2 separate regions of the Homo sapiens genome follow, and region 2 is linked to region 1. The links come from fine-mapping of genetic effects on gene expression. Tissue or cell type: lung. Region 1 holds a variant in brackets; the other region holds the start of a gene. All regions are shown on one strand. Distances are from middle to middle. Region 1 overlaps ING1 (inhibitor of growth family member 1). Region 2 holds the start of CARS2 (cysteinyl-tRNA synthetase 2, mitochondrial).

Region 1 (16,768 bases):
CTGCCCATTACCCAGTTCCAAAGTAGCCTCCACATTTTCAAGTTTCTTTATAGCAGTATCCCACTCCAGATACCATAATCCATATTAGTCCATTTTCATAGGATTATAAAGAACTACCTGAGGCTGGGTAAGTTATGAAGAAAAGAGGTTTAATTGACTCACAGGTCAGCACAGCTGAGGAGGCCTCAGGAAACTTACAATCATAGCAGAAGGAGAAGGGGAACCAAGCATGTATTACATGGTGGAGCAGGAGAGAGAGTGAGCAATGGGGGAAGTACCCCACATTTTCAAACAACCTGATCTTGTGAGAACTCACTATCATGAGAAGAGTAAGGGGGAAGTCTGCCCCCATGATTCAATCACCTCCCACCAGGCCCCTTCCCAAACACATGGGGATTACAATTGGAGAAGAGATTTGGGTGGGGACACAGAGCCAAAGTATATCCACCATATACATATAGCATATACATATATACACATATATACACACCATATACCATAAATATACACAGACGCATATACGTACATACATGTATAAAATGTGGGTATATATGTACATATACATATATGTATATGCATATAGCACATATATACACATAGAGTAATATATATGTACATGTATATACATAGGACACACACAAAAGTGAAAACTTGTAGAAATAAAAGAAACTAACAAATCCACAACCATATAAATTACATGAATACACTTTTCTTAGAAATTGACAGATTAAATAATTGTGGCTACACAATGTCTAAATAATAGGAGATTGACCACATGCAAGAATATCAGAGGGACAAAAAGATTTCTAAAAAGCAGAAATCAGGCCAGGTGTGGTGACTTATGCCTGTAATCCCAGCACTGTGGGACGCTGAGGTGGGCAGATCATGGTCAAGAGCTCGAGACCATCCTGGCCAACATGGTGAAACCCCATCTCTACTAAAAATACAAAAATTAGCTGGGCGTGGTGGCACGCGCCTGTAGTCCCAGCTACACTGGAGGCTGAGGTAGAAGAATCACTTGAACCCGGGAGGCAGAGGTTGCAGTGAGCTGAGATTGTGCCACTGCACTCCAGCCTGGTGACAGAGTGAGACTCCATCTCAAAAAAAAAAAAAAAAAAAAAGCAGAAATCATGAGGACCAGAGAATGCCTGGCCACAGCATCATAAAATCAGTGATAAAATTAATAGGATAGCTGAAGGAGAGTATTATACCTATGAAAAATTTAAAATGTGCTTCTAAGTAACTACTCACAGAAAATATAAAATTAAAAATACAGTCTATTAGAAATGAATGACATTATAAATATGCAGGATGCAAACAAAGGAGTATTTGGATGAAATTTTACGGTGTTAAATTCATGTATTGGAAAACCAGAAAGACTGAAAATACAAGAGGCTTTTAACTCAAGAAGCTATGAGAAAAAAAACTGAAAGAAATGTAAAAATCAGGCTGATAATATAATAAATCAATAAAAGAAAAATAATAACAGGCCGGGCATAGTGGCTCATGCCTGTAATCCCAGCACTGTGGAGGCCAAGGCAGGTGGATTACCTCAGGTCAGGAGTTCGAGACCAGCCTGGCCAACATGGTGAAACCCCATCTCTACTAAAAACACAAAAATTAGCCAGGGGTGGTGGTGTGTGCCTGTAATCTCAGCTGCTTGGGAGGCTGAGGCAGGAGAATTGCTTAAGCCTGGAAGGAAGAGGCTGCAGTGAGCCAAGATATCACCATCACACTCCAGCCTGGGCAACAGAGCAAGATTCCATCTCAAATAAAAAAAATAAAAAAAAGAATAGATTTAATCAATAAAACCAAATACTGGTTTATTGTAAAGATCAATTAAATGGACTAGTATGTGACAAGCCAATTTAAGAAATAAGAGAGAAGATACAATCGATAATATTAGAAATGAGAAAGGTGATACAACCAGAGTCATCAAGGTGATGAAAAAGTAAGTGCTATGTTCAACAGTATGCCAATGCATTTTAAGACCTAGATGAAATAGAACATTTTCATGGAAAATATAATATGGGATAAAGAAAATAGAAAGTGATAACACTGAGTCAAGAAGAGATAGAGGCCAGGCACAGTGGCTCATGCCTGTAATCCCAGCACTTTGGGAGGCTGAGGCGGGCAGATCATCTGAGGCCAGGAGTTCAAGACCAGCCTGGTCAACATGGTGAAACTGTGTCTCTACTAAAAATACAAACATTAGCCAGGCGCAGTGGCATACCCCTGTAATCCCACCTACAGGGGAGGCTGAGGCAGGAGAATCGTTTGAACCCAGGTGGTGGAGGTTGCAGTGAGCCGAGATCGTGCCACTGCACGCCAGCCTGGGCGACAGAGCAAGACTCTGTCTCAACAACAACAACAAAAAAAAGAGATAGAGACCCTGAAGAGAAGAAATTGAAAAGGTAGTCAAAGACTTACTGCAAAGATTATTGTTTGCCTATTATTTCTAACAAATATTCAAGGGACAAATAATTCCTTGAAGAGGAATTTGCCCTCGAAGGATAAATAAATGCTTCCAGGGCATTAAAAAAAAAAAAAAAAGGTAAACCTCCTAAATTCATTCCATAAGGTTAATATACTCCACACACACACACACACACACACACACACACACACACACACACACACACTACAAGAATAGCTTTTTTAAAAGCCCCATCTCAGAGACACAAACTTACTAATAGAATATTATCAAATCAGGCCTGTCATACCAGCACTTTGGGAGGCCCAGGGAGCCGGATCACTTGAGGTCAGGAGCTCGAGACCAGCCTGGCCAACATGGCGAAACCTTGTCTCTACTAAAAATACAAAAATTAGCCGGGTGTGGTGGCGGGTGACTATAATCCCAGTTACTCGGGAGGCTGAGGCAGGAGAATCACTTGAACCCGGCAGGTGGAGGTTGCAGTGAGTCAAGATTGTGTCACTACACTCCAGTCTGGGTGACAGAGCAAGACTCTGTCTCAAAAAATTATCAAATCAAATACAGTGGTGACTAAAAGAATAATCCATCACAGCCAGGAAGAGTCCATCCCAATAATGCCAAGATTTTTCGAAATTCATTTATTATTATTATTGTTTTTTAAGCTACATATGCTGGAATGGGATCAAAATTTACTGAATTGAAAAAAAAAAGGCCAGTATGGTGTCTCACATCTATAATCCCAACTGCTCAGGAGGCTGAGGCAGGAGGATTGCTTAAGTCCAGGAGTTCAAGGCTGCCGTGAGCTTTGATCGTAGCACTGCACTCCAGCCTGGGTGACACAATGAGACCGTGTCCCTAAAATAAATAAATAAATGGAGAAGATCCACACGTAGCTCACATAGCTATCCTCAGCCTCAACCCCAAAAAAGTATTTGACAGAATTCAGCATTAACTTCTGGCAATACTCTAAAAATACCAAAAATCATAAAAGAAACTTGCCTGTACCTGACAAAACAATATTTTTTGGAAATACCTGGCACATCAGAATAATGGTGACATATTCAAAGCATTTCCATTTGAATCAGAACAAGACTCTGATGCCTGCTATTGCCAACTGTACTTAACCTTTCATTGAAGTCCCAGCTCATTCAGTAAGAGGGAATTAAAGGACGAAAGGAAAGGAAGCAGAGATGCCCACTATCAGTCACGGGCATGGCACTGGCAATGTTGTACTGACAGTCCTCTACCTAGAAAGTCTACGAGAGTCAACTGACAAACTTCTAGAACAAATGAGAAATATCAGCAAGGTGGCCAGATCTGAGATCAACCTACAAACATTAACTTGTTATTACATGTAAATAGGAACCAATGGAGCAAAGTCATGGAAAAAAGATCCATGTGTGGTAGCAACTAAAACACAACACACCAGAAAGAAATGTGAAGAAAACTGTAAAATATAACTGAAGGCTATCATAGATAGCGTGAATAAATGGAAATACTTCATATTCTGCATGAGAAGATTCATGTTCCAAACGTATAGGTGTTCTCCAAGTTAATCTATAATCATTAACGGAAGTGATATGGTTAGGATCTGTGTCCCTGCCCAAATCGCAGGTCAAATTGTAATCTCCCTTGTTGGAGGAGGGGCCTGGTGGGAAGTGACTATGTCATGGGGGTGGATTTCCCCCCTTGCTGTTCTTGTGATAGTGAGTTCTCACAAGATCTGGTTGTTTAAAAGTGTGTAGCACCTCCCCCTTCACTCTCTTTCTCCTTCTCCGGCCATGAAGGACATACCTGCTTCCCCTTTGCCTTTCACCATGATTGTAAGTTTCCCGAGGCCTCCCCAGCCATGCTTCCTGTACAGCCTGCAGAACCATAGGCCAATTAAACCTCTTTTCACAAATTACCCAGTCTCGTGCAGTTCTTTATAGCAATGCAAAAATGAACTATACAGGAAGCAAACAGAGCGCTTGCCTTATTAAATATTAAAAAGTACTATAAAGCTAGTGAAATGAAAACAGTGAAGATTTTTCACTGACATAAATGAATAAATCAGTGGAAACTAACTGAGACACCCACGTGTCTATGAAAATTTAATATATCATAGAGCTGACATTTCATGAATGAGAAGGTAATGGAGTATTCAATACTGGCTTGAGACAATGACCATCTATTTGAGGAAATACTTAGAGGGGTTAATACACATCATTAAGTTATGGCCACTTTTACATATATTATCTGATATGGTTTGGCTCTGTGTCCCCACCCAAATCTCATCTCGAATTGTAATCCCCACATGTCAAGGGAGGGACCTGGGTGAGTCATGGGGGTGGATTTTCCCCATGCTGTTCTTGTTACAGTGAGTTCGTTCTGACAAGCTCTGATGGTTTAAAAGTGCGGCACTTACCCTTTGCTCTCTCTCTCTTCTTCCACCATTAAGACGTGCCTTGCTTCCCCTTCACCTTCCGCCATGATTGTAAGTTTCCTGAGGCCTCCCCGGCCATGCCGAACTGTGAGTCAACTAAATGTCTTTTCTTCATGAATTACCCAGTCTCAGGCAGTTCTTTATAGCAGTGTGAAAATGGACTAATACATTATCTCATTTGAACGTCGTATGAATTAACACTCTGAGGGGTAGGCATCATTACTCATTTTATAAATGAGGAACGAAGGGTCAAGGAAATGAAGAAATTCCACCCAGATCACACAGCTGGTACGTGCCAGAGACTGAAACCAGGTCCTCTGGCTTCAGGGCCAGCACTCTTTCCCTATACCACATGGCATCCCTCACATTCTTCCATTTTGTCAAAGAATTTCAGTGACTCCCCACCCTAAAAACCAAAATAAATTCCAGATGGATAAAAGAGATATTTGAAAAACATGTAAAGACTGTAAGAGAATATTTTATAATTTTGGGGGTGGGAACAACTTTCTTAAGCAAAATATAATATAAATTCTGTAAAGAAGAGAGCTCAGACATGATGATCTCAAAAATTTAAAGCTTTGTTATGACAAAGATGCCATAAACAAATATAAGATAACAGACTTGGAGAAAATTTTTGTCTGTAATAAATAGAAAAATTAATCATTTTAGAATAAATACAAATGGCCAATACCATCTGAAAAGTTGTACAAAGGCAACAGAAACAAGGGAAGCGCAAATTATATATTCTTAATACATATGTTTATATACCTAAAATATACAATATGAGCCAGGTGTGGTGGCTCACGCCTGCAATCCAGCACTTTGGGAGGCTGAGGCGGGTGGATCACCTGAGGTCAGGAGTTTGAGACCAGCCTGGCCAACATGGCGAAACCCTGTTTCTACTAAAAAAAAAAAATACTAAATTTAGCAGGGCATGGTGGCAGGCAACCATAGTCCCAGCTACTTGGGAGGCTGAGGCAAGGGAATTGCTTGAACCTGGGAGGTGGAGGTTGCAGTGAGCCAAGGTTGTGCCACTGCACTCCAGCCTGGGTGACAGAGCGAGACTCTGTCTCAAATAATAATAATAATAAAATATACAATATGGATATATTATATATGTATGTACTATATATGTAATATTTTAATTATAAATATAATGTATTACATAACTATGTATAAATGTTTTTTCTCAAGACAGGAAAAATTCTATTTGGTTAATATCCAATGACAGCAAAGGTAAGGAGAAGTAAGTACTCACAGATGCTGGTGGGATATATCTTAAAGTAGATAACATAGAAATCTTAGAGGCCTTCCTGGAACTGGGCTTAATCAGATGTCAGCATGGTGGATTAGCATGTAAGAATGGAGTTGCCTTAGCCTCTACAGATGGTGTGAAAACCTTTTTTGCTAAAATTTTATTTCTGTGTATCAATCATAGAGAAATATTCATATGCAGGATGAAAACAATACACAGATATTTATCTCGGAATGGTTTGCCATAAAGAAAAATTTGAAACACTCTAATCATTGATCATTAAAGGAATGTTTCAATTATAGCATATCCATAGGACATAATTGTTTGTGATAGTTAATAACATGTCAATTAATTTTTATGTATTGATATGGAATGACCAACAGGGCAAAGTATTACACAGGGGAAAAAAATTGCTTATTGCAAATCAATACATAGGGTATGATCGCATTTCTGTAAAAGAAAAAGTAAAGCAAAACTGTATCTTTACATAGGTATTGTTCTGGTTATCTACTGCAATATAACAATTCACCCCACAGTGTAATGGCTTAACACAGTGACATTTAATTTGCTCATGAATCTGCCATTTGGGCAGGGCTGGGAAGGGACAGTTTGTTTCTGCTCCACTGGGTGTCAGCTGGAAGCTGGGGCTGGTAGCGCCTTCAAGCGATCTTGCCCATGTATCTGATGGTTGGCACTAGCTACCAGTTGGGACCTCAGCTGAAGAAATGGCTGGAACACCTGTGTGCAGCCCTTCCAGGAGGCAGACTCCCAAGTGTGAGCATCCACAGACAGGAAGGGATCAGTCAGAAACTGTGATTGTTGCGCTGCCTTGGAAGTCTCATGGTGTCACGTCCCATGCATTCTCCACGTTAACCCAGGCATACAGGCTCCTCTGCAGTTAAGGGAGGGAAACCAGGCTCCACTCGGATGGGAGGAGTGTGAGGTTTGTGCACATTTCAAAACCACCCTAAAAGTGTGTGTATCATCTCATAGAAAAAGAGCTGTGGGCTGGTCATGGTGGCTCAAGCCTGCAATCCCAGCATTTTGGGAGGCCAAGGCGGGCAGATCGCCTGAGGTCAGGAGTTCGAGACCAGACTGGCCAATATGGTGAAACCCCGTTTCTACTAAAAATACAAAAATTAGACAGGCGTGGTGGTGCACACCCATAATCCCAGCTACTAAGGAGGCTGAGGGAGTAGAAGTGCTTGAACCTGGGAGGTGGAGGTTGCAGCGAGCCGAGATCCAGCCTGGGCAACAGAGTGAGACTCTGCCTCAAAAAAAAAAAAAAAAAAAAAAAAAAAAAGAAAGAAAGAAAGAAAAAAGAAAAAGAGCTGGAGAGATAGATGCCCACCAACCGCTGATGACTGTTGACTTGGGGAAGTTGGGAGGATTGGGAAATAGAGGTGGTGGGTGAATTGGTTAGTATGCAAACCCAGCTTGAACTAGCTTAAGAACAAAAGGATTTATTGACCTCCATAACTGACAGTTCCAGGGTTCATGTGGCTTCAGGGGTTTCAACAATGCCATCAGGACACTGTATTTCTCTCCATTTTCCAGGCTGACTCTCTGTGTGCTGGGTAAGATACCACCAGGTGTCCAGGCATACATCCTCATGGTTTAGCAGCAACAATGAAAAGACAAAAGGTATTTTTGCTGGTGGCTCCAGAAGAAAAGTCCCAGGAAAGATAGGTAGTGATGGATGTGGGGTACCTGCCCATTCATACCCTGGTCACTGTGGCCAGCAGGGTGGGGCACCTTAATGGACAGACCTTGGTCACATGCCTACCTCTTCAGCAACTGCTTGCCATTTTTGCTCTGATTTCTTTTGTGTTGACACACGGAGAATTCTCTTGTGTTTCCTCTTGGGTATGTATTTAAAACCTTTCCCTTCCCCCATATTTCATACAAAATTTGTATGTGTTTAGGGACTAGCCTAGTCCACCATGTTGAAACGATGCTCTTCATGGCTTCTATAAGATTGAGCA[G/T]ACCAGCCTGGGCAACATGGTAAAACACTGTCCCTCCAGAAAATACAAAAAACTAATTAGCTTGGCAGGGTGGCGCACGCCTGTGGTCCCAGCTACCAGGGAAGCTGAGGTGAGAGGATCATCTGAGCCTGGGAAGTGGAAGCTGCAGTGAGCCAAAATCTTGCCACTGTTCCATAGCTTGGGCGACAGAGCGAGACCCTGTCTCCAAAAAAGAAAAAAAAGATTGATAGTACCAACTGACTTCCTGCTGTCTGGTTGATAGCCATTAGTTTCCAGATCTTTGTTTCTAGGTTTGACCCTCTGCTTTCCCTGCACTAGAGGAATGTTGGCCTGGCACCCTATAAAAAGATTTCAAGTCGCCCCATCATTGAAGAGAGGAACACAACGCCTTTGGTAATAGAACAATATTTTATCCCATGAACACACTGCAGTGACATAATTTCACAGTAAAGCCAGAAATGTCATTCATTAGCTTCTCCCCTATGCTGGATATTAAGAATATAAATAAAACTGTCATAAGAGTCATTCTACAAAATAACATTATAGAAATATAAGAGGAAATAAAATTAGTAAATCTGTCCATGTATTTTGGTTCCTCAAGAAACAGTATTCCTGGTATTATTAAATTTGTTCTTCTATGGTCTATTTATGTCTTATATTTTTCAAAATTTAGGTTGCACTGCATCCTCAGTGGCAGGAGTTGTAACCTCATGTAAGATCTGCCTCACACCAGTGTCCTGTGAGAGCTTATCACAGTCCTCCCGTGCTGCTTTCCTTTGACCTTTCTAGATCATTCCTGAAGTATGGAGCCACATGCAGTAAGCCTCACAAGCTGTTTCCTAATTGTCCTCACACATTCTATTCCCATTCCTCCCCTGCAGTGCAATCTAGCTGTTACTTCTGTAGACTGGGTTCTTAGCTGCTCATCTTTTTATTCTCCACATCCGACTTGGCACTTTCTAAAGAATTAACGTCTTGACTGGGCGCAGTGGCTCACACCTGTAATCCCAGCACTTTGGGAGGCTGAGGTGGGTGGATCACCTGAGGTCAGGAGTTCGAGGCCAACTTGACCAACATGGCAAAACGCCGTCTCTACTAAAAATACAAAAATTAGCCAGGCGGGTGGCTGTAATTACACGTGGCGGGTGCCTGTAACCCAGCTACTCAGGAGGCTAAGACATGAGAATCGTTTGAACCCAGGAGGCGGAGGTTGCAGTGAGCTGAGATCGTGCCATTGCACTCCAGCCTGGGAGACAGAGCAAGACTCCATCTCAAAAAAAAAAAAAAAGAAAGAAAAAAAAAAGAATTAAACTTCTTGGTCGAGTGTAGTTTTCAAAATTTGCAAAGTGAAATGGTTCTTACCAGCCTTCCAAGATGCCAAGGAAGGTCATCCTTGTATATCTTGACTTTCAACTACCTCATATTATTGAAGATCTTTGTGTCATAAAAGTATTTCATTGTTAGTTGACTTCTAATTTCTCATGTTTATGGAACAGATTGATGGTGCAAAGAGTCATAAATATTTTGAAAATTGTGTATATTGGCCATGGAAAACTATAATTTCCCCTCTTCCATCTAACTTTTACTTACTTTAAAATACAAAAATTAATTTCCATTCCCTGAACACATCCCAATTAAAGGGAAAAGAATTAAGCCAGAGCCAGTAGCTGTCAGGGTGGCACAAGCGTCTATTCAAACACAGCACCTATCAGGGCAAGTGTTTGTTTTTGGTTTTGGTTTTGTTTTTGAGACGGAGACTCGCTCTGTCGCCCAGGTTGGAGTGCAGTGGCATGATCTCGACTCACTGCAACCTCTGACTCCCGGGTTCAAGTGATTCTCCTGCCTCAGCCTCCCGAGTAGCTGGGACTACAGGCAAGTGCCACCACGCCTGGCTAATTTTTTGTATTTTTAGTAGAAACGGGGTTTCACCATGTCGGCCAGGATGGTCTCAACCTTCTGACCTTGTGATCCACCCGGCTCAGCCTCCCTAAATGCTGGGATTACAGGCTTGAGCCACCACACCTGGCCGGGGAAGTGTTTTTAAAATGGAAAGATTTGCTCTAACATAGCACCTGACTGTCCACAACAGACTCCAGCAGCTCAGTGTCCACCACACCATCTACCCCTTGGCCACGGTGAGCCTCGTGGATGGGTCTCCACCTGGTCCGCACTGTGTCTGAACACATCTGTGCTGCAGAGAAAAATCCTTGCTGCGGTGTCCTCATTGCTCTTCCGATTCCTGAATTTTCTGACACTTCTCTTATCTTTCCTGTCTTTGCTTGAGACATAGTCAATTATTGTTACTTGCAACCAAAAGATGCTCAAATAATAGAGAAAATAAGTATTTATCTAACAATTTCTTATGTTAAATAAACACTTTGGGAGACAGCAAACTGTTTCCAGGCATCTTTGTAAATGGATACATTGTTAAACTCTGTGATTGATCATTACATTTGTTTTTATAAAATTTTATAATAAAAATTTTATAATAAAAATAAAATTTATTAAATGTAATAAAAATATTACATTAATGTCTCAAATATTACATGTCTCAAATATGTAATGACATTACATGTCATTACATGTCTCGTTACATTACATGACATTACATGTCTCATTACATTAATGTCTCAAATATTAATCATTTAGAAATATTGCATTTCCAATGGCATACAGATTTATCCAAAAATATTCCCTTCACACAAATCAAACTGAAATTCCCTTTTAGGTGTGTTTTTAGAACTGGTTTCCAAGTTAGAAAAGAAAATGTTTCATGTTTAAATGTCAATTCTTGGATTCAGGCTTTACTCTACACGTCTTTATTAAAGGCCTATGGCTTAACACGAGAGACCCACGGTTCCTAACGTCCACATAAATGAGAACAGGTGCACCCATGAAACAGCATGGCTGATGAAGCGGGGGAGTGGCTCTGGCCTGGAGTAACAGCACTTCATCCTGCCGGCAGCCCCACCACCAACTCACGGAGTGCCTTTGAGGAAGTGGCTTCATCACCCTTGGGCCTCGGTTTCCTCACCCACACAGTGAAGAGATTGAATGAGATTTTCTGCCTACTCTGAATTCAATCAAGAGGTGAGTCAAAAGGAAGTTTAGTAGGCTCTGATTGCTACTAAAAATAAAAATTCGATGTATTTACTTCTGTGTTCTACAACGAGAAATGGAATTGTTTATAGAAAAGCAGCCATGGAGGACTTCCTCCTCGTGCAGCAGGAACCTGGCAGTGACCGCTAACATGCTAAGGGTGGACTTGATTCTCTTTAGCTGTAAGGAATCACAAGTCCATTTTTTAAGAATACATGTGTTAAACTAGAATAATTTGACCAAAAATATTACTCAAATTGTTATCTGTACAGTGCTCTAGCATTTCTGAAGTATTTTCAGACATTAACAAGTCTGGGCCTCCACTCCTGGGATGGGCATTATCACTGTCCTTATTTTGCTTCTGAGAACATTGGGTACAGAAGAGTGACTTCCTTGAGGTTAACCTGTGATAAACTAGTCCTGATTCAAATCTGACTTTGACTCTCATGCTGATTCTAGCACCGTGCATGGCTCCTAGTGAATTGCTTAAAACCTTGCAGGTAGGCTGGGCACGGTGGCTCATGCCTGTAATCCCAGTACTTTGGGAGGCCGAGGCGGGCGGATCACCTGAGGTCAGGAGTTCAAGACCAGCCTCACCAACATGGAGAAACCCCGTCTCTACTAAAAATACAAAATTAGCCAGGTGTGGTGGCGCGTGCCTGTAATCCCAGCTACTCGGGTGGCTAACGCAGGAGAATTGCTTGAACCCGGGAGGCGAAGGTTGCAGTGAGCAGAGATTGCGCCATTGCACTCCAGCTTGGGCGAAACTCCATCTCGAAAAAACAAAACAAAACAAACAAACAAAAACCTTGCAGGTAAATTACAATCCTAAAATTCACTGTAGGGCAAAACAAGAAACTTGAAGTAAGCATCCTGGTTTACCTGGAGGAAAATCAGAAGCATGAGAACTTGGTAGTGCAAATACCCGTGGCTCCTGCAGATCCCTTCATTCAGGCAAAGAAGCCCAGCAATTAAGACTTTTTCGCTCTCTCCTCCCGTGAGACCATGAGCGTTTCTTTCACCTTCTATGGCTTTCTCAGTTGTAAGACCCCCACAGAGCTGGGAGGACAGCACACTCCTGGCATGTTAGGCGTTCAGGGAAGACCAGCAGCAACGCCAGGTCCTGACCATGAGGAGGCCTCCGGGTGCCAGGCGGTGGTCAAGGATGCTGGTTTTGGAGCCAGATGCAGGGCGTTGGCCTTGTGCAAGTCAGGTCCCTGGCTGGAGTCTCAGCACCTTCATCAGGAAAAGCAGCCATTTTTTGGCAGGGTTGTCATAAAATATGAAGTATGCAGTGCTAGCAATGTCTAGCATATAGGAGGCAATAAATGGTGGCTATATTGATATACATACACCACGACACTGAGTACCTTTATTTAAAGTTGCCTGCTGAAACAAGCATTTTCTTGTTTCGTAGAAAATTCTACTTTAATATAAAATATTATACCATTGAAGAGTTTGGATGTGTAACTTGTGATGCCTTAGAAAAATATCCTAAGGGGCTAGGTGCTGTAGCTCATGCCTGTAATCCCAGCACTTTGGGAGGCTGAGGCGGGTGGATCACCTGAGGTCAGGAGTTCGAGACCAGCCTCACCAACATGGAGAAACCCCGTCTCTACTAAAAATACAAAATTAGCTGGGTGTGGCGTGGTGGCGCCTGCCTGTAATCCCAGCTACTTGGGAGGCTGAGGCAGGAAAATCTCTTGAACCCAGGAGACGGAGGCTGCAGTGAGCCAAGATTGCGCCATTACACTCCAGCCTGGGCAACAAGAGCAAAAATCCGTCTCAAAAAAAAAAAAGGAAAAAAGAAAAAGAAAAAAATCCTAAGCACAAAATAAATTTTTCTAACCACTTCAAAAAAAAAAAAAGAAAAAAAGAAAATTTCTACTTTAGCCAGGCACGGTGGCTCACACCTGTAGTCCCAGCACTTTGGGAAGCTGAGGCAGGTGGATCACCAGAGGTCAGGAGTTCAAGACCAGCCTGGCCAACATGGTAAAACCCTGTCTCTACTAAAAATACAAAAATTAGCCGGGTTTGGTGGCACACGCCTGTAATCCCAGCTACTCGGGAGGCTGCAGCAGGTGAATAGCTTGAACCCAGGAGGCGAAGGTTGCAGTGAGCCGAGATCGTGCCATTGCACTCCAGCCTGGGCAACAAGAGCAAGACTCTGTCTCAAAAAAAAAAAAAAAAGAAAAGAAAAAAGAAAAAGAAAAATTTTACTTTAATGGAGTTTACTGGCTCCAGTCAAGATTTAACCTGGGCTGGGCGTGGCGGCTCACACCTGTAATCCCAGCACTTTAGGAGGCTGAGGCGGGCGGATCACGAGATCGGGAGTTTGTGACCGTCTGGCCAACATGGTGCGACTCTATCTCTACCAAAAATACAAAAAAATTAGCTGGGCGTAGTGGTGCATGCCTCTAATCCCAGCAACTCGGGAGGCTGAGGCAGGAGAATCGCTGAACCCAGGAGGCAGAGGTTGCAGTGAGTTAAGATCAGGCCACTACACCCCAGCCTGGGTGACAGAGCAAGACACCGTCTCAGGGGAAACAAAAAAAAAAAAAAAAAAGATTTAACCTGTTACTCAGTTTGTAGTAGCTTCTTTTCAGATTGGGGTTTTTAATTGGAAAAATACCAACCCCATCTTTATGAACAGTCAAGTAATACAGAGTATTTGAGGTAAGGAAAGAGAACTGGCCTAATGATTTTCTTCATTCCAGTTATAGAATTCCTCTCATTCTTTTGGTGGCACAGGGGGCACAGCTCACTAATGTTTGGTTTGTTAGAAAAAAATGTAATAGTTGGATTCTCACTGATGAGCTGCTTAAAAAACAAAGACGGAATAGTTAAAATAAATACTCTGAAACAAAGCCCCTCATAAAAAGCCTCAGGAGGCAATTTTGACTTAGTAACACAACACACATTTGCTCTCCCACCTCCTTCCCATTAGCGGTGTCTTCCTAAGCCCTCCACGAGTTCACAATGAGAGCCTGTGCAGAGAACACGAGTGCCTCAAGAAATGCAGTCACGGACTAGCAATTTTTCCAGATTAAAAAAACCCCGGAAATCTAGCCCCCAAGGTGCTGAGAACTGCCTGGACTCTGCGATGAAAGAGGCACATTCTACACGCTAAAATGGAGAGGGAGGCAGACAGTATCAATAAAACCTCTCTCCATATATGCCAAGGATTCTAGAGCCATAAATTACATTAGATAGAAGGAAAAAAGCTAGATGTCCTCGAGAGCACATCATGTCTTTAGAAGTGCACAGATGAAGCTCTTAATCATTTTGCCTAAGAAAAAGATTTAATACTTTAATGAAATATTGAAGTGTTCAGGTAAGTTCCAGGTAACTTATTACCTGGAACACTACATAAATGTGAACTACAAAAGGATATCACAACTAAATGTGTACTCTTTCTAAAATAATATATAATAAGAGGAAATGGCTTTTACTTTGATAAATGCTTTATTCAGCATTGGCAACCACCGACAGTCTCAAGTATTGAGACAACTCACATAGCTCTAATCACACCAAAAGAGAACCACCAGCCAACGTCCCAGTCACTGGCAAGTGCGTGCCTGCAGGTCTGTGACTCCTGCAGCACCTCTCTCAGCACCTGGGGAGCCTGTCCCAGGAACACCATGGCTGCTCAACACTTCCTTGAACATACAACGTTTCTTTAGTCCAGTTTACAATAGAAAGTATTATATCATAACGAAAACACTTTGGACCCTTTATCTGAACTGTAATAACTTGGTTATTATACAACAAATATGCATTGAACATCTAAGTAAAAGCAACTGTTCTATATTAGATCGCTTTTCAGTAATCTATTTTTCAAAAAGAATTCAGTACCATTTTTGTCCTCATGTCGGGATTCCAGGATCTTTCTATTGTATCTAATCATGATCTAAATCCCAAATCTTGAGTGTTTTAAGTACTTATCTGTGATTTTTTTTTAATGTCCACTGGAAATAACAAGAGTGATTTAAGACTGCCAGTCCAACACGACTCTGTATTGTATCTATTTTTTTTTAAAGAATAAGTGGCTACCCACCTGTCCTTATGAGAAACTTGAAGAAAGCTAGAGAAAAATTATCCAACATTTGAATATGCCAGTGCATTTATTTATTGGAACCACCCTCTGTGAAACATACTTTAAAAGTGTAGAACTATAGACCAACTGTTAAGCAATTTATTCAAGATCAAGCCCTTAAAGGACAGGGCTGGGCTCCTAGATTGCAAGGCTTGGCCTCTGAGCCATCTCTCTTCACCAGTTGTCTACACCAAAACTGAATATGAAGAAATCCAGGATGAGCAACTGCATTTCATTGAATCTTCATTTCTATAACTTAATTTGCATTATTACCTCCAATTAATATAGAAGTGAAAAATTAGCATGAAATTTTATATAAGCAAAGACTCAAGCTATTTTTATTGTCACTGGATGTTTATTAAGTATTTTAGTTTCATAACTTATTTTCATAAACCTTTTGTTCACTATTTGTTTGGGTAAATCTCATCAAATTTAAACACCCGAGACTCTTAAATGTTCTGGAGTTTTGTGGGAAAATAAACACCTATTTGTAAGTATTGATATGTAAAAAGTTCAAATTTTAGTATATGACCAACTACAATTTGCATTTCTCTACCAAGTAACCCTCTATAATGGAATTTCACTGTAAAACAGACACTTATGTCCAGCACAAATAAAGTTCACAATAATTGTTTATCACAAGTAAACAATCAGCAAACTTAATGTTTTACTTATAATAAATACATGCCATATACTTAGATTCTAGAAAGTCATCACTCACTACTTCTTTGTGGTAGGTAGCTTCACAGAGACTGTGAAACAGATCATGGAAAGAAACTGATTTTACCATGTGCGAAGTTAAAGGGAACCACGTATCACTCAGCGCACGGTGGCTCACGCCTGTAATCCCAGCACTGTGGGAGGCCGAGGTGGGCGGATCATGGTCAAGAGCTCGAGACCATACTGGCCAACATGGTGAAAACCCATCTCTACTAAAAATACAAAAATTAGCTGGGCATGGTGGCACGCACCTGTAGTCCCAGCTACTCGGGAGGCTGAGGCAAGAGAATCGCTTGAACCCGAGAGGCAGAGGTTGCAGTGAGCCAAGACTGGGCCACTGCACTCTAGCCTGGAGACAGAGTGAGACTCCATCTCAGAAAAAAAAAAAAAAAAAAAAATGAAAACTCCAGCCGGGCACGGTGGCTCACACCTGTAATCCCAGCACTTTGGAAGGCTGAGGCAGGTGGATCACCTGAGGTCGGGAGTGCGAGACCAGCCATGACCAACATGGAGAAACCGCGTCTCTACTGAAAATACAAAATTAGCCAGGCGTGGTGGTGCATGCCTGTAATCCTAGCTACTGGGGAGGCTGAGGCAGGACAATCGCTTGAACCTGGGAGGCGGAGGTTGCGGTGAGCCAAGATTGCGCTATTGCACTCCAGCCTGGAACTCAATCTCAAAAAAATAAAAAATAATAAATGAAAACTCCACTGACCCTTTCAATATGTGGGCAAATCAATGTTAGATGCTAGTC
Region 2 (16,768 bases), 27 kb after region 1:
AAAAAGACTACGACAAGATAACATTATGTGGAAACAAACATTATGTCGAATACAGAGTATAGAGGGAGTACAAAGTTGAATAAGGAAAATTACGCCTTTCCCTCAAAAAGCATATAAGTAATTTAAAAGTACAATAGTAAGAAATAGACCGGTTCTTCTATTCCTAGCATTCATTGGCTCTAGAATGAATAGTGTTTATCTGAACTCAAGAATAAAATTGGAAGTAATTTACCCTTTACAAAGATAAGATGGAGTTTAACCTAGGTTTTCTTTTTAAAAAAAAAAATCACAACACAGTACAATCTGAGTAATGATTTTGTTCCTCTAGTTATGTACTCTCTTCACATACACATAAACCAAAAAGGCATCTTAAGCATTCAACAAGGAATATTGACGAGTGTCTACCATGTGCCAACTACTGGTCCGTGCGCTGGGGATACAGTAGTGAAAAGTTTTTTGGAGCTTTACATTCCATAAAACTTTTAGCCCACCCCTTGGGATAAAAAGTCAAAAAAGATTTTATCTTTTTTGGAACAAACTTAGAAGATCAAGCAATAAAACATAATTACCTTTGATAACGAATTTTAAATGTCATTGAAGAAAGGTGCTTAATTTTGAAGATACGTTGAAGAATCTTGTCTCTTTCAGTTTTGTTTCCTGTGGCGTGTTGCAAAAATGGATGTTAAAACTTTTCCGTAGAACAGAAATTTCAAATGGATTAAAAAGAAACATTTAAAATTAAACTTTTTTCTAAAATTATATTTCCAGTCTAACTGAAAATGCTCAAACCTATGAGAGTCAGATATAAGAGATGAACATATAATTCTTTTTCTTTTTTTGAGACGGAGTCTTGCTCTTGTCACCCAGACTGGAGTGCAGTGGCGTGATCTCAGCTCACTGCAACCTCCGCCTCCCGGGTTCAAGCGATTCTCCTGCCTCAGCCTCCTGAGTAGCTGGGATTACGGGTGCCGGACGCCATGCCCAACTAATTTTTGTATTTTTAGTAGAGACGGAGTTTTGTCATGTTGGCCCAGGCTGGTCTCGAACTCCTGACCTCAGGTGATCCGCCTGTCTTGGCCTCCCAAAGTGCTGGGATTACAGGCGTGAACCACCGCGCCTGGCCAAGCATAGAATTGTTTAAGTTTCAAAGTGCTTAAAAAATAAATGCAAACTCATTCATCTTAAACTTGAAAACCCCTAAACCATATGCTACCGTAATCAACTCTACTTCTGATTTACAAGATTTTGCCTTGAAAGAAAATGTAATACTGAGAACTTGATTTTGTTATTGTTGTCATTAAGGACTGAGAAATGGCATTAGTGATATTTTGGAATCATTAACTTTAACACACTTCCTCGTTCTGACCTAGATTGGAGAGGGAGGTGACTTCAATTAAATGGATCCTCTTTTTATGTATATATGGTGTATTAGTCAGGGTTCTCTAGAGGGACAGAACTAATAGGATGGAGATATAGATATATATAATGTATATACATATATATGTTTATTAAGTACTAACTTACATAATCACAAGGTCCCACAATAGACTGTCCGCAAGCTGAGGAGCAAGGAGAGCCAGTCTGAGTCCCAAAACTGAAGAACTTGGAGTCTGATGTTCGAGGGCAGGAAGCACCCAGCACAGGAGAAAGATGTAGGCTGGGAGGTATAGTAATGAAGAGCATTAGCAGTCTATTTTACTTTACCTTAATATTCAACCTGCAGATATTCAATATGCAAAAAGATCACATTTCTAACCATCATTAGGTAATGAGCTATGTTTCTCCTTGTTTTGATGATCCGCAAAAGCCTTAAGAAAACAGAATTAGCTGCCGGGCACGGTGGCTCATGCCTGTAATCCCAGCACTTTCAGAGACCGAGGTGGGCGGATCACCTGGGGTCGGGAGTTCAAGACCAGCCTGACTAACATGGAGAAACCCCATCTGTACTAAAAATACAAAATTAGCTGGGCATGGTGGCACATGCCTGTAATCCCAGCTACTCAGGAGACAAGCAGGAGAATTGCTTGAACCCGGGAGACGTGAGAAAGAGGCAGGAGAATCGCTTGAACCCAGGAGATCACGCCATTGCACTCCAGCCTGGGCAACAAGAGTGAAACTCCATCTCAAAAAAAAAAAAAAGAAAAAAGAGAAAAGAGAATTGGCCAGGTGTGGTGGCTTAGGCCGGTATTCCCACCGCTTTGGGAGGCTGAGGTGGCTGGATCACTTGAGGTCAGGAGTTCCAGAGTCCCAGACCAGCCTGGCCAACATGATGAAACCCCATCTCTACTAAAAATACAAAAATTAGCTGAGCGTGGTGGCACGCACCTGTAATCCCAGCTACTCGGGAGGCTGAGGCAGAAGAATCACTTGAATCTGGGAGGTGGAGGTTGCAGTGAGCCGAGATCGTGCCACTGCACTCCAGCCTGGGTGATAGAGTGAGACTCTGTCTCAAAAATAAATACATAAAAATAAAAATAAAAATGCAAAAATTAGCTGGGCACGGTGGTGTGCACTTGTAATCTCAGCTACTGTGGAGGCTGAAGCAGGAGGATTGCTTGAACCAGGAGGCAGAGGCTGCAGTGAACCCAGATCAGGCCACTGCACTCCAGCCTGGGTGACAGAGCAAGACTGCCTCAAAAAAAAAAAAGAAAACATAATAGAATCACTGCCAGTGAGGGGCTAAAAACATTACATGAATTTTCTGAAGACAGAAGATACTATTGTTAATTTAAAAGTTGTGATGTTCTATGAACAATTCAAATATACCGCATGTCCAGATTCATGTGCAGATTTGATCTTCAGTGTTACTAAGCTGCTTTCAGAATCTCTGCTCCAGTTATTTCCTTGAATTCGTGTGTTCTCACAGATTGCAACTGAGCTTTTTGTTAATTTGCTTTATTTACTGGCACATCTAATATCTGAATCAGCTTTATCAGGTATTTTACTACCCAGATTTCTTCCCACCTGCACAATTAATCCCTTTCGTAAGGGATTAATTCATCAACATTCAACAAGCCCTTTTATTTCTTCTAAATTTTTTTTTTCCAGCCACAGCAAAACAAAACAAACAAAACCCAAGTCCTTTTCTGAATTTAGTGCAGGGCACAGTGAGAAGTTCAAAATAATGTACAATTTAAGATACTCAGGGAGATAAATATACACACAGCACTGGAAAGTTACAAAATAACATAAGGCAGGCAAGAAGTGATAATATTCAGGAGAATTTAGAGTAGTTAGGTAACATGAGTGGTTAGCATTGATGTAGGCTATAGGGTCTCCTAATTCTAACATTTTAACCTTATTAAATTAGACAATAGATTACATTAGACTACAGTTAGCTTGAAACAGAATTGCAGAGTTGGACTCCAGGATATTGAGAAACTACTCTAGGTACACACTTGTTTGTCTCTACTTAAACCTTTGCTTTTTAATAAAACACCAAAGCAAACTAAAAACAACAACAAAAAACCAGAGGAACGTCTCCTGTTTTGAGAACTGGAAAAGCAAAGGGGACTTTTTCTTTTTTTTGAGACATCGTATTGCAAGACACCAATAGAGGCACTTTTTTTTTTTTTCAGGCGGAGTCTCCCTCTGTTGCCCAGGCTGCAGTGCAGTGGTGTGACCTCAGCTCACTGTGAGCTCTGCCTCCTGGGTTCAAGCGATTCTCTTGTCTCAGCCTCCCCAGTAGCTGGGACTACAGATGCACGCCACCACGCCCGGCTAATTTGTGTATTTTTAGTAGAGACGGGGTTTCACCATATTGGTCAGGCTGGTCTCGAACTCCTGACCTCAGGTGATCCATCCGCCTCAGCCTCCCAAAGTGCTGGGATTACAGGTGTGAGCCACTGCGCCTGGCCCAATAGAGGCACGTTTGTCAAGCTATTGTGAGTAACTTTCAGAATGTTTTTGTTCTCAAGATACGGGATCATGGTGGGGGAGGCATGCTGTGTATTGGAGTGCAGACATGGTGTGTGTTGGGTTGCACACTGTGTATTGGGGTGCACACTGTATTGGGGTGTAGATGTGTGGGGGCGCACACTCTATTGAGGTGCACATTGCATTGGAATGCAGACAGTGTTTGCTGGGATGCACATGTGCTGTGTTGGGGTGCACACTGTACTGGGGTGCAGACATGGTGTGTGTTAGAGTGCACAGTGTATTAGGGGTGCACACTGTATTGGGGTGTACACTGTACTGGGGTGCAGACATGGTGTGTGCTGGGGTGCACACTGTATTGGAGTGCACACTGTATTGGGATGCTGATGTGGTGTGTGCTAGGGTGCATACTGTGTATTGGGGTGCAGACTGTATGCTGGGTTGCACACTGTGTATCGGGGTGCACTGTGTTGGGATGCTGATGGTGTGCTGCAGTGCACACTATTGGGGTGCAGATGTGTGTGCTGGGGTGCACACTGTATTGGGGTGCACACTGTATTGGGATGCTGATGTGTGTGCTGGGGTGCATACTGTGTATTGGGGTGCACACTTCTTGGGGTGCAGACTGTGTGTTGGGTTGCACATTGTGTATCGGGGTGCACTGTGTTGGGATGCTAACGGTGTGCTGCAGTGCACACTGTATTGGGGCGCAGATGTGTGTTTGGGGTGCACACTGTATTGGGGTGCACACTGTATTGGGGTGCTGACGTGTGTTCTGGGGTGGACACTGTGTATTAGCGTGCTGACGTGGGCTGTGCTGGGATGCACACGTGCTTCGCTAACAGGCCAGGGCCCGGCAACAGAAGCTTGCACTGTAAACGCTCCTCCCGCGCGGCGGACACAGCTCCAGGCTGGTACCGCGCGCACACGGACGCCTCGCAGGACCTGGGCTAATAAGGAGAGGAGATCGGCACGGTACCGCCTCTTCCCACGGCCTCCCGGCGCGGCACCGCCCTCCTCCCTCCACCCCGGGCCTTCCCCGCCCCAACCTCTTCGGGCCCTGGTTCTCCACCCTTGCCGCGGGCGACTCGAGCCAGGCCAAAGGGAGGCGCTACCTGAGGACTGCTTCCGGGAGTGGGCGTGGCCCCAAGGGCGTGGGCGGGGCGGGGCGGGGCCGTGCTGCTCTTGAGCGACCGGCAGCGTACCCGGCGTGGCTCCCGTCTCCGCCCAGTCGTAGGCGCTGGCCGCTGACATGTTGAGGACTACGCGCGGCCCAGGCCTGGGCCCCCCGCTGCTCCAGGCCGCGCTGGGCCTTGGGCGGGCTGGGTGGCACTGGCCTGCGGGCCGGGCGGCGAGCGGGGGGCGCGGGCGGGCCTGGCTGCAGCCCACGGGCCGGGAGACGGGTGTGCAGGTGTACAACAGCCTCACCGGGAGGAAGGAACCCCTAATCGTGGCGCACGCCGAAGCCGCCTCCTGGTGGGCCGCGCGGGACTGGGGCACGGGCGGGGGCCGATCGTGGCGGAGACTTCCCACGGCTGAACGGGATCTGGGCTCGGGGAGGGCGTTTAGGAAGCTGCATGGAGGGCGCCGTTCTAGAAGCTGGGGGTGCGCGGTGCTTTTGCAGGTTTGGGTGTGAATTGAGCAAGTATGAAAACCCCGGCTATTCATCCCCCAGAAGTGATTACTTTAAAAATTATATGATCATTATAACTCAGAATCGAATGTCCTTTCTTGCAAATATGTTCCACACGATGGATTTTAACTTTGTTTCCAGGTATAGCTGTGGACCAACTGTATATGATCATGCGCACCTTGGCCATGCTTGGTGAGTTTCCTGGATTTGAATTTTCATACTTCAAAGGACCATTTATTTTTGAAAGCCTTTTGCTGATTTCTTTTATCTCTTAAGTGGCAACTTAGGGATGCAGAATAATTCCTACATTCCAGGCATTGTGGGAAATGTTACAACCTCATTTGGTTCTTATAGGGATTCTGAGCACTTACACCCGTTTTACAGGTGAGGAAACTCAGGGAGACAATGGAGCACTGAAAAATGACCCGTTTTGGAACTAGATGTTTTTTGCTGGGTTTAGTGACATCAAGAGGCCTTTGCGGGGTCCCGGGGTCCTGCTGATCAGTCATTCCTGGGCCCCACCACTTCTTAGCTTCACAGCACTGAGCAGGTCACTTTATTGCTTTGAGTCCTGGTTTCTTCATCTTTGAGATGGGAATGATAACTTGGATCTTATAACAATTTTAGTAAATAATGCCCATAAAATGCTGCTTAACACTGTACCTCACATGTGAGATGTCACGGGGCTCAATAGTGATTGAGTAACTTTCCTAAGATGACACATTGAAGAGGTATTGGAACTGGGGTGAGGCTTGGTTTCTCTGACTGCGAAGTGGTTGCTCTCTTGACCTCTTTAACTGTAAGATGTACTGCCTCCTACATTTGCCAAAATTACCACTTTTCCTAATATTTTGTACATTTCCAAAATATAATGTACAAAAATGACATATTATAGATTTTTTAAAACTTAGTATTGTTCAGTCCTAGACTAAAAGTAAAAAGTTACATTTACTCTGTATACTTTTTTTTTTTCTTGAGACGGAGTCGCTCTGTCGCCCAGGCTGGAGTGCAGTGGTGCAATCTCGGCTCACTGCAACCTCTGCCTCCCAGGTCCAGTTGCCGCCTCCTGGCAGCAATTCTCCTGCCTCAGCCTCCGGAGTAGCTGGGATTACAGGCATGTACCACCACGCCCGGCTAATTTTTGTATTTTTAGTAGAGACGGAGTTTCACCATGTCAGCCAGGCTGGTCTCGAACTCCTGACCTCAAATGATCCACCTGCCTTGGCCTCCCAAAGTGTTGGGATTACAGGCATGAACCACCATGCCCGGCATACTCTGTATACTTTAAATATACATTTTTCCCCTTTACTTTGGGCTAACATACTTTTAATTATCAAAAGCATATTTCGACATCTTTCTTGAATTATAAAATATGTTGGGGAAATATTAAAAACAAAACCCCCACCCTGGAAAACCTTTCCACAAAGGTAGAAGAGAAAGAAAACAGTTCTGTTACTGAATAAGCCTTAAACCAGAAGGGGATGAGCTAAAATAACTGCAAAGACAGAAAGAAATCTCATCCTTCTATGGAGCTTTGGGGATACAGCCTGTCTCAGTCTATGAGTCTGCTGTAACAAAATATCCTAAAATGGATGACTTATAAACAACAGAAATTTCTTTCTTTCTGGGGCTAGGAAGTCCAAGATGAAGGCACCAGCAAATTTGGTGTCTGTTGAGGGTCTGCCTGCTGTGTCCTCACATGGTAGAAGGTAGAGGGAATTCTCTGAGGTCTCTTCTATGAGGGCATTAACCCCAGTCATGAGCTCTCTGCCTCCATGACTTTGTCACTCCCAGAGGCTCCACCTCCTAAAACCGTCACCTTGGGAGTTAGGGTTTCAACCATGAATTTGGAGGGAAGACAAACATTCAGACCATAGCATAACCCATTGCTTCAGGTGAGTTACAGTGTGGAGTCAGATGACAAGGTAGGCCCATCTCCTCCCAGGACACTGGGAAACGGGGCGTTATTTTCCTTGATTACATTTCAGAGGTGGGTCCCAGGTTTTGAAATTTTCTTGAGTTGTAAAACTGCCAAGAGGTTTATTTAGCCATTTAAAAGATTGACATGCATTTGAAGAGGACTGAGGAAGAAATCCTAAAAGTTGTTGGGGAGAGAATCTCTTCTCATTTCCAACTAGGAGAGTCAAGTCTTGCAGTTTAAATTTGTATAATATTTACCTTTATGACTACAGAAAAGAATACACATCTTAAGTGCGCAGCTGAATGCATGTTATAAGCTGTGTCCACACAGGGCCTTCCCAGGGGCTGGTGGGAGCTTGGGACTCTCCTGTTGACCACCTTCCTGTCAGCCTGGCCAACCCCTCCAGGCCTTTGCTGGGCTGGCCTGCCCCACCTCCCTCTCCCCATCTCAGCTCTCCTAGCATTGTACTCCTTCAGTGGTTATTTATGCAACCATCTGATGTCGTTAGCATGATGTAATTATTTCAGCTCCAGCAGGACAGGGATGCACACAGTGCCTGCTGCAGAAAGGTAGAATTTGAGCAATGGGTAGCACTCAGTTCACTGGAAAGAGACACCCTGAAAAATAGCCTCCACCATTTCCAGAAGAGGTCAGAGGGATGGAAACCCTGTTTGGGGAAAACAAATAGATCAGTTTGGTGCTAGGGGGGAGGAGCAGGGGAAGGGATGGGGCGTCAGTTGCAGCCAGACTGGGGAGGGTGCTGCGTGGTCTGGCCCAGAGAGTTTGGATTTCATGCCATGGTAGACGGAGTCACACTGGAGCGTTTTGAGGGAAGACTCTTAGCAAATGAATCATTTCAGCGATCACCCAGATGAGCACACTCACCCAGTGGATGGAGAAAATGGGGCAGAAAGAGCCGGGCTGACGGTAGCATGGTTCATGGTGGAGTCACAGAAGCAAGCTGAGGTCTCCTGATGCCATGTTCTTCAGACTTGGCTGCCCGGCACTTGCAAGGCGTGTGTGTGCGTGTTTGTGTATAGAGTGGCCCCTGTGGTCACAGCCTGCCTGCAGCGTCTCAGGGTCTCAAATTGCTCATGACCCTGCATTCCGCCAGCTCTGCCAAGCTGTGGAGCCTCTGCTGTCTCCAAGGGCAGTTCCGGGACTCAGCCTGGGCTCCTCTGGGCCAAGCAAGGGACTTGACTCTTGTTTTCATTTGCTTTAGGTTCCTGTAATTTTTTTCTTGTAAATCTCACATCTTTTAGACTCTTTCCCAACTTGAGGTGAATGAAGGAGCATGGTGATGAGAATGGTAATAATAGCTTGTGTTTTTAGAATTCATGCTGCACAGGCGGTAAGGCTGGACAGCAGTCCTGTTAGGTGGTGGGATTTTGCCAAATTTATAAGCAAGCCGACTGAGCTGTAAGAGGTTAATTATCTTGTTGAGTTTTGGAGATAGTTTTGTCCCTGGAATCAAGATTTGGTCTCAGCTGTGTTTGGAGAGGGAGGGGGTGTGTGGGAGGTTAAAGTGATACAATAACATGGCTAGGATTCCCCCACACCACCCTAAGAGAAAACAATTTTACGAACTGAAATTTAGGCCACATGGATAGCAGAGGTGAGTGTGACATTAGATAACCTTGAGTTTTAAGGTAACTTTTATGGGAAAACAGATTCTTGAGATGCTAAGTAGATTTTAAACCCTTTTAGTTTTACAAGTCTGAATTACCCCAGTGTAGTATATAAATAAGCTGGCATTTTTAAATATTCTACACTAGTGTGTGCATTCTTAGGAGTAATCTTATATGGCTTTAATGGGATCGTACTTGTTTTGATTTGGTATTTGCTTCTGTTTTGTCATAGTGAAAAATTAGAATTACTCTAGAACATGAACAAGAATGGTGAAAACACGATCTTAACTGAGAGATTGTATTATGAGTGAATTTTTATACAATTAAATAGACTTCAACTCACTTAAGCAACAACTCCAAAATTAAAAATGCTAATATTGTGTCCTGAAATTGATGCAATACCTTTGTCAGTTTCTCCTGAGAACCCTTGTGGCGCAGGCCCTGGTGCCATCAGTGAGAGGGAGTTTCCTTGTACCTGCTCCGCTGACCTGTCCATTGTGCTACACAGTAGAAGTTATGGAGCAGCATGTTAAAATGTAATGGATTTTTTACAAAGATAACTGATGACTTTGTGTAATAAAGACATCCTGACACTTTTTTTCTTTCAGCTCATATGTTAGATTTGATATCATTCGAAGGATCCTAACCAAGGTTTTTGGATGCAGCATAGTCATGGTGATGGGTATTACAGATGTAGATGATAAAATCATCAAAAGAGCCAATGAGGTAAGTGGAGAAGAGTTACATCTATTGATAATGCCATTGATTAGTGTTCTGAGCCCTTCCTGAAAGTGGTTCTTGGCCGGGCGTGGTAGCTTACGCCTGTAATCCCAGCACTTTGGGAGGCCAAGACAGGTGGATCACTTGAGGTCAGGAGTTTGAGGCCAGCCTGACAAACATGGTGAAACCTTGTCTGTACTAAAAATACAAAAATTAGTCAGGTGTGGTGGCGGGCTCCTGTAATCCCAGCTCCTCAGGAGGCTCAGGCAGGAGAATCGCTTGACCCTGGGGGGGCGAAGGTTGCAATGAGCGGAGATTGTGCCACTGCACTCCAACCTGGGTCATGGAGACTCTGTCTCAAAAAAAAAAAGAAAAAAGAAAGTGGTTCTTGTTTGCATTTTACAAGTAGTTCTCACATCTTATTGTCCATGTGTGGCCAGTGGGTGTAATCTGAGACATGAAACAGTGCTGGGTTAGCAGGGTTTCTTTGGTGCCCTAGTAAAGGAAGTTAACATCTATCGTATTGTGATCGCTGAAGGCTTTTCTGTGGCCTCGTGTCGTTACCTCCTTCTGTGGTCGTCTCCTGGCTCCAATCTTACTCCCTCCCCTGGCCCCTCGGCCTCCAAGGGAAATGACTTGACTTTCTCTTTACTGAGGGAACCAGACCCACTGATTGGACGTATTCATATTTGTGCTAATGATGCCTTTCATGTCTGTGTCTTGATAGTTTAAAAAGTACTTTTTGTATCTATTAGTATTTCAGTCTCAGAACAACCCTGTGTGCTGCGCAGAGCAGACCTTATTGTGCTTTTTTTAACACATTTTATTCCATATTAAAAAATTATTTGAAGCGATTTGAGATCTACAGAAAAATGACAAGAATAGTACAAAGATCTCCTGCAGCCACCCTGGGTTTCCTCGTGGCCATTGTTGGCTGCGTTGGGCCATCATCTTCTCTCTGTTCTAGACTTTTCCCACCAGGCCGCCTCCCCTCTCTGCACACGCCACGCGTGCCTTCAGAGCAAGGTCACTGGCTCTCGAGGCCCGCACAGCCCTCCCAGTCAGGAACCGGACATTGATGCAGTGCGCTGGTGTGGGTGACATGGACGTCAACCCCAGGTGTTGTCCCTGTCCCCGAGCGCCTCTTTCTTTTCTGTTCTAGAACCCCTTCCAGAGTCCTGTTGTCTCCTCGGTCTCCTTCAGTCTTCAGTAGTTCCCTGTCTCATGTCCTTGACACTGTCAAGGATTGTAGGACTTTGATTTTGTAAGGTGGCCCTCCACTCAGGTTCATTGGATGTGTCCCCATCTTGCAGAAGAGTCAAGAGGTTAAGGTGATCACATCTTGAGGTTGCACAGACCTTCAGGGGCAGGGCCACTCCCACAGCTCTGACTTCAGCTATCTCTGGGCAAGTACCCCTGCCAGGTGGGAATGGCCTGCGCACTTGTGGCGGGTAGCAGAAGTCTCTTTCCCGTGCAGGCTGAGGGCCCCACTGGAGTCTGGCCCACACCTGGAGTGTGGTGCCTGGCAAGCTTTGGGAAGACACAGTGGATGAGGTTGTACAGGCAGGTGGGACATTGGAGGCGCCTCCTCGGGCTCTCCCTGTTGGCTGGGGGCCAGTGCCCCGCACATCACTTCTACCGGAAGGGCTTTGGTGGGTCCTTTGACTTTAACTGCTGGTGAGGAAGACTTTTCCTAAAGAAGCCATTCTGATGAAACGCTGTCACTCTTTGCCCCACATGCTGTCTTGTGTCGGCTTTCTCCATTGCGGGTGCTTCCTCTAATCACCATTCTCTCTGGACATTTTTGCCCATTTTCACAATTCACTGTGGTTTAGCATACAAGACAGTCTATTCATTTGTGTGTTAGTTAGGATGACTGGCTATTTCCTTTTCCTGAATCTGATGAAGGAATTTAAGTAAAGCTGACCTAATTTTGATGTAGACGAGATGTAGTCTTGTGATACTTTGCCAGTTACCACTGCTTTTACCAGCATGTGTTACAGTGGAAATGTTCTAACATACATGAAGTAGAGAGAAGAGCATATGAACCCATGCACCTGTCACCGGCGTCCATGGTCAGCACCTGTTCCACCCCTGTTCTCTCTGCTTTTTGTGGAGACCACCTGTGGATTGTCCAGTGGTGGGCTGCTGTTTGGCAGTTTGACCCTCCAAGAGCATTAGACGGTGTTTGTCTTAGTCTGTTTTGTGCTGCTGTAACAGAACACCACAGGTTGGGTAATTTATAATGAATAGAAACGTATTTGCTCACTATGCTGGAGGCTGGAAACCAAGATCAAGGTGCCAGCATCTGGCAAGGGCCCTCTTACTGCATCATCCCATGGTGGAGGGCAAGAGGTCAAGGGGAGAGAAAGAAGCCCTGCCAAAAGCCCCCTGCCCCCACCCCTCCTTGGGTTTTTTTTTCTTTTTTTTTGGAGACAGGGTCACACTGTGTCGCCTAGGCTGGAGTGCAGTGGTGTGGTCATAGTTCAGTGCAGCCTTGATCTCCTGGGCTCAAGCTGTTCTCCCACCTCAGCCCTCCTGGTAGCTGGGACTCAGCTGTGCACCACCACACATGACTAATTTTTTTCTTTTTTCTATTTTTAGTAGAGATGCGGTTTCACTATGTTGCCCAGGCTGGTCTCAAACTCCTGAGCTCAAGCAATCCTCCTGCCTCGGCCTCCCAAAGTGCTAGGATTACAGGTGTGAGCCACTGCACCTGGCCGGAAAGCCCTTTTAAGAAGGCATGAAGCCCATCCAAGAGGGTGGGGCCCTCACGGCCTAATCACTTCTTCAAGTTCTCACCTCTTAATACTGTTACAAGGGCAAATAAATTTCAACATGAGTTTTGGAGGGGACAAACATTCAAACCATAGCAGTGTTTCTGGTGCTTTTTAAAAAAAACTTGCTGGATTTTTTTTTTTTTGAGACAGAATTTCACTCTTGTTGCACAGGCTGGAGTGCAATGGTGCTATCTCCGCTCACTGCAACCTCCACATCCCGGGGTCAGGCGATTCTCCTGCCTCAGCCTCCCGAGTAGCTGGGATTACAGACACCCACCACCATGCCTGGCTAATTTTTGTATTTTTAGTAGAGACGGGGTTTCACCACGTTGGCCAGGCTGGTCTCGAACTCCTGATCTCAGGTGATCCGCCCTCCTCGGCCTCCCAAAGTGCTAGGATTACAGGTGTGAGCCACCACGCCTGGCCTGGATTTCTTTTTTTGAAAAAAAAATATACATATACATACTTTTTAAGTCAGTGAGATTTGAATTATAGCATTTGTCTGTCATTGTGGCTTCCCTTCCTCTTTAACCTCCCGTCACACCCATGCATCTTCCTTTTGTGAAATGGGGTGGAACTAGTGACTAAAGATTTGGATTGGAAGTCAGAGGCCGCCTTTGGGCTGGGGCGTTTATCTGAAAAGAGGCTGAACTTTGTCATTTGTTGAGTGAACAGAGCTCTTCTCTTGTCTCTTAGGCATGAGTCAAAGGAATGGTGTGAGGTCCTTGAGGAACATTTTCACTGAGGTCTCTGTCTTCCTATTTTCTATTGATTTGTCTTTCTCATAACTGGGTAGTCTCCCACCGCATGGGGCTGTTTAGCAGTTCTAGCCTTTTCCCAATTGCTGTTTGTATTGCTTCTGGCTGTTAAAAAGAGTGCTGCTATGAACATATATGCTTTTGTTTTGTTTACTTATAAATATATTTCCTGTGGCTGGGTGCAGTGGCTCACGCCTGTAATCCTATACTTTGGAAGGCTGGATCACTTAAGCCCAGGAGTTAGAGACCAGTCTGGCCAACATGGCAAAACGCTGTCTCTACTAAAACACAAAAAATTAGCTGGGTGTGGAGGTGTGCACCTGTAATCCCAGCTACTCGAGAGGCTGAGACACGAGAAGTACTTGAACCCGGGAGGTGGAGGTTGCAGTGAGCTGAGATCGTGCCACTGCACTCCAGCCTGGGCCACAGGGTGAGACTCTGTCTCTAAATAAAAAGTTAATTAATTTCCAAAGCGGAATTGCTAGGTCAAAGGGGGAACAGTTTATTTGATATCTTGCAACTGAGAGTCAGATCATTGAGAGACTGGCAGTGCTGGAAATCGGCTCCCACTTTAAATGTATTTCTTCACATCCTTACCCCCAGCCTATAAGAGGCAGGATTTAGAAGGCAGGTGCGTGATGTCTAAGGCTGTGCGTGAATGTCTAGTCACCAGGTAACCCTCAGCAGAGGTGGTGTTTGGAAATGCCCCACTGGTAAAGAAGGAAGGTCAGTGGTTCGGGGCTTTCACCTGCCGTCGGGGCAGCCAGAGCCTGAAATGAAAGCACTTGGTAGCTTCGTGCCTCTCATGAATCTTCAAGATCAGAAAGAATTGTGTCAGTCCCCATGTCCTGGTGGCAGGGAGCTGGTAGAGGCTGAGACACTGGCTGAGTTCTGGAGGGAGCCCCATGGGACAGAGAAAGGGCCCCGCAGGGGATGGGAGGAGAGGTGAGGACACAGTGTACTTGGAGGGTGTCATGGGGGCGATGGGGAAGGTGGGGCAGGAACGTTGCCATCAGAGAAGCGGGACAAGAGCCCCGAATCCAGGGAGCAGAGAACTGCAGGAAGGAGGAGGTGGCCAGCGTGGTAAAGGGAGGAAGAAGCAAGAGTTAATTTCACAGATGCCACAAGGAGGGATTGGTTGTTAACTTTTTTAAAAATGTTATGATTAGAATATGAAAAACTTGGTAGAATTGGTTAAACATTCTAACTGTAGAGAGTAGTTAATTTTTGAACCAGAGAATTTCCATACTTGGTACACAGCAAGATCCTAAGATGGTATTGAATAGTTTCTTTCCTCAAAATAATGTCTGACTTCAATGTAATAAAACATGTATCTGAAACCCATAGTTATGAAAACATCTGTTTTTTAGTATTTAGTGAAAAGGTAATTCTTTAAGAAATGCAAATCAAAACCACAGTGAGATAACATCTCATGCCAGTTAGAATGGCGATCATTAAAAAGTCAGGAAACAACAGATGCTGGCGAGGATGTGGAGAAATAGGAACGCTTTTACACTGTTGGTGGGAGTGTAAATTAGTTCAACCATTGTGGAAGACAGTGTTGCGATTCCTCAAGGATCTAGAACCAGAAATACCATTTAACCCAGCAATCCCATTACTGGGTATATACCCAAAGGATTATAAATCATTCTACTATAAAGACACATACACACGTATGTTTATTGCAGCACTGTCCACAATAGCAAAGACTTGGAACCAACCCAGATGCCCATCAGTGATAGACTGGATGAAGAAAATGTGGCACATGGAATACTGTGCAGCCATAGAAAAGGATGGGTTCATGTCTTCTGCAGGGACACGGGTGAAGCTGGAAACCATCATTTTCAGCAAACTAACACAGGAACAGAAAACCGAACACCGCATGGTTCTCACTCATAAGTGGGAGTTGAACAATGAGAGCACATGGACACAGGGAGGGGAACATCACACACCCGGCGCCTGTCAGGGGTTGGGGGGCTAGGGGAGGGATAGTATTAGGAGAAATACCTAATGTAGATGACGGGTTGATGGGTGCAGCAAACCACCATGGCACGTGTATACCTGTGTAACAAACCTGCACTTTCTGTACATGTGTCCCAGAACTTAAAGTATAATTTAAAAAAAAAAAAAGGTAATTCTTTTTATCCAATGTAAACTTTTTTGAAGGTAAAATTAAAACTTTTATTTTTCTTCTTTACCTTTTTTATAATATAAAATTTACGATTTTAAACATTTTTAAATGTGCAATTCAGTGGCATTAAGTACATTTACAGCATTAAATGGTGCATAATTCCTCAAGGTTCATCCACCTGCAGCCTGTGCCGGAAGTTCCTTCCTTTTTATGGCTGAATAATGTCACATTGCATGTACACTCTCCTTGCTGTCTATCTTCTGAATATATATGCTTTTGTTTTGGTTCCAGGACCCCCTCCCCACATACCAAAATCCTTGGATGCTCGAGTCCCTGATATAAAATATATTTGCACTTAATCTATGCACATCTTCCCATATACTTTAAATCATATCTAGATTACTTTTAATAACTAATACAATGTAAATGCTCTATAAATAGTAGTACTATATTTTTTAAAAATTTGTATTATTTTTTATTATTTATTTAGTTTTAAGATAGGGTCTCACTCTGTTACCCAGGCTGGGGTGCAGTGGCATAATCACGGCTCACTACAGCCTCACCCTCCCAGGCTCAGGGATCCTCCCACTTCAGCCTCCAGAGTAGCGGGGACCACAGGCATGTGTCACCATGCCCAGTTAATTTTTGTATTTTTTGAAGAGACAGGGCCTTCTAAGTTGCTCAGGCTGGTCTCTAATTCCTGGGCTCAAGCAACCCTCCTGCCTTGGCCTCGCAAAGTGCTGGGATTACAGGCATGAGTCACTGTGCCTGGCATTATTTCTTAATATTTTCTATATGAGATCGATTGAACCCACAGATGCAGAACCCTAGGATACAGAGAGCCGACTGTGCTGCGTTTTCTTTACCCATATTCTTCCACCGTTGGACATTGGGTTTCTTCTCATGCAAGCTTTTAAAATGATAACAATATCTTTCGTGCCATCTGCTCCAAGACTTGTTTTTAAAATATTTTAAATTATAATAATACACTTTCCTGAGTCACTCCCTTGACTTTAATTTTTGGCACCATTTTATAGGTTGTCAGAGATGGAAAGCACAGGTTTTAAACAAATCTGGGGTAAGAATTAAAAGAGGTAGGATATATTCACATAGTAACATTTTGTTTTGTTTTTGTTTTGAGACAGGGTCTCACTTTGTCATCCAGGCTGGAGTGCAATGGTGGGATCTCAGCCCAGCGCAACCTCCGCCTCCCAGGCTCAAGCGATTTTCCTGCCTCAGCCTCCCGAGTACCTGGGACTACAGGCGTACACCACTACGCCCAGCTAATTTTTGTATTTTTAGTAGAGATGGGGTTTCACCA

What was found.
Region 2: it holds the start of CARS2, and the variant in region 1 is fine-mapped to the expression of CARS2 in lung (TOPMed, PIP 0.94).

What each region holds. Positions count from the first base shown.
Region 1 is chr13:110,721,216-110,737,983 of GRCh38, reverse strand. It overlaps ING1 (inhibitor of growth family member 1), which reads right to left. Exons shown (of 2, transcript NM_198219.3): 2 at 14,645-16,768. Among named protein-coding and RNA genes, the nearest start is that of ING1, 16 kb to the right of the region's middle. RefSeq lists an enhancer at 11,217-11,356. The variant G/T (reference allele first, on the strand shown) is at 8,100.
Region 2 is chr13:110,694,454-110,711,221 of GRCh38, reverse strand. CARS2 (cysteinyl-tRNA synthetase 2, mitochondrial) reads left to right here and starts at 5,106. Exons shown (of 15, transcript NM_024537.4): 1 at 5,106-5,352; 2 at 5,651-5,701; 3 at 9,667-9,784. The coding sequence starts at 5,129. RefSeq lists enhancers at 4,179-4,298, 4,309-4,688, 12,360-12,519 and a silencer at 4,739-5,298.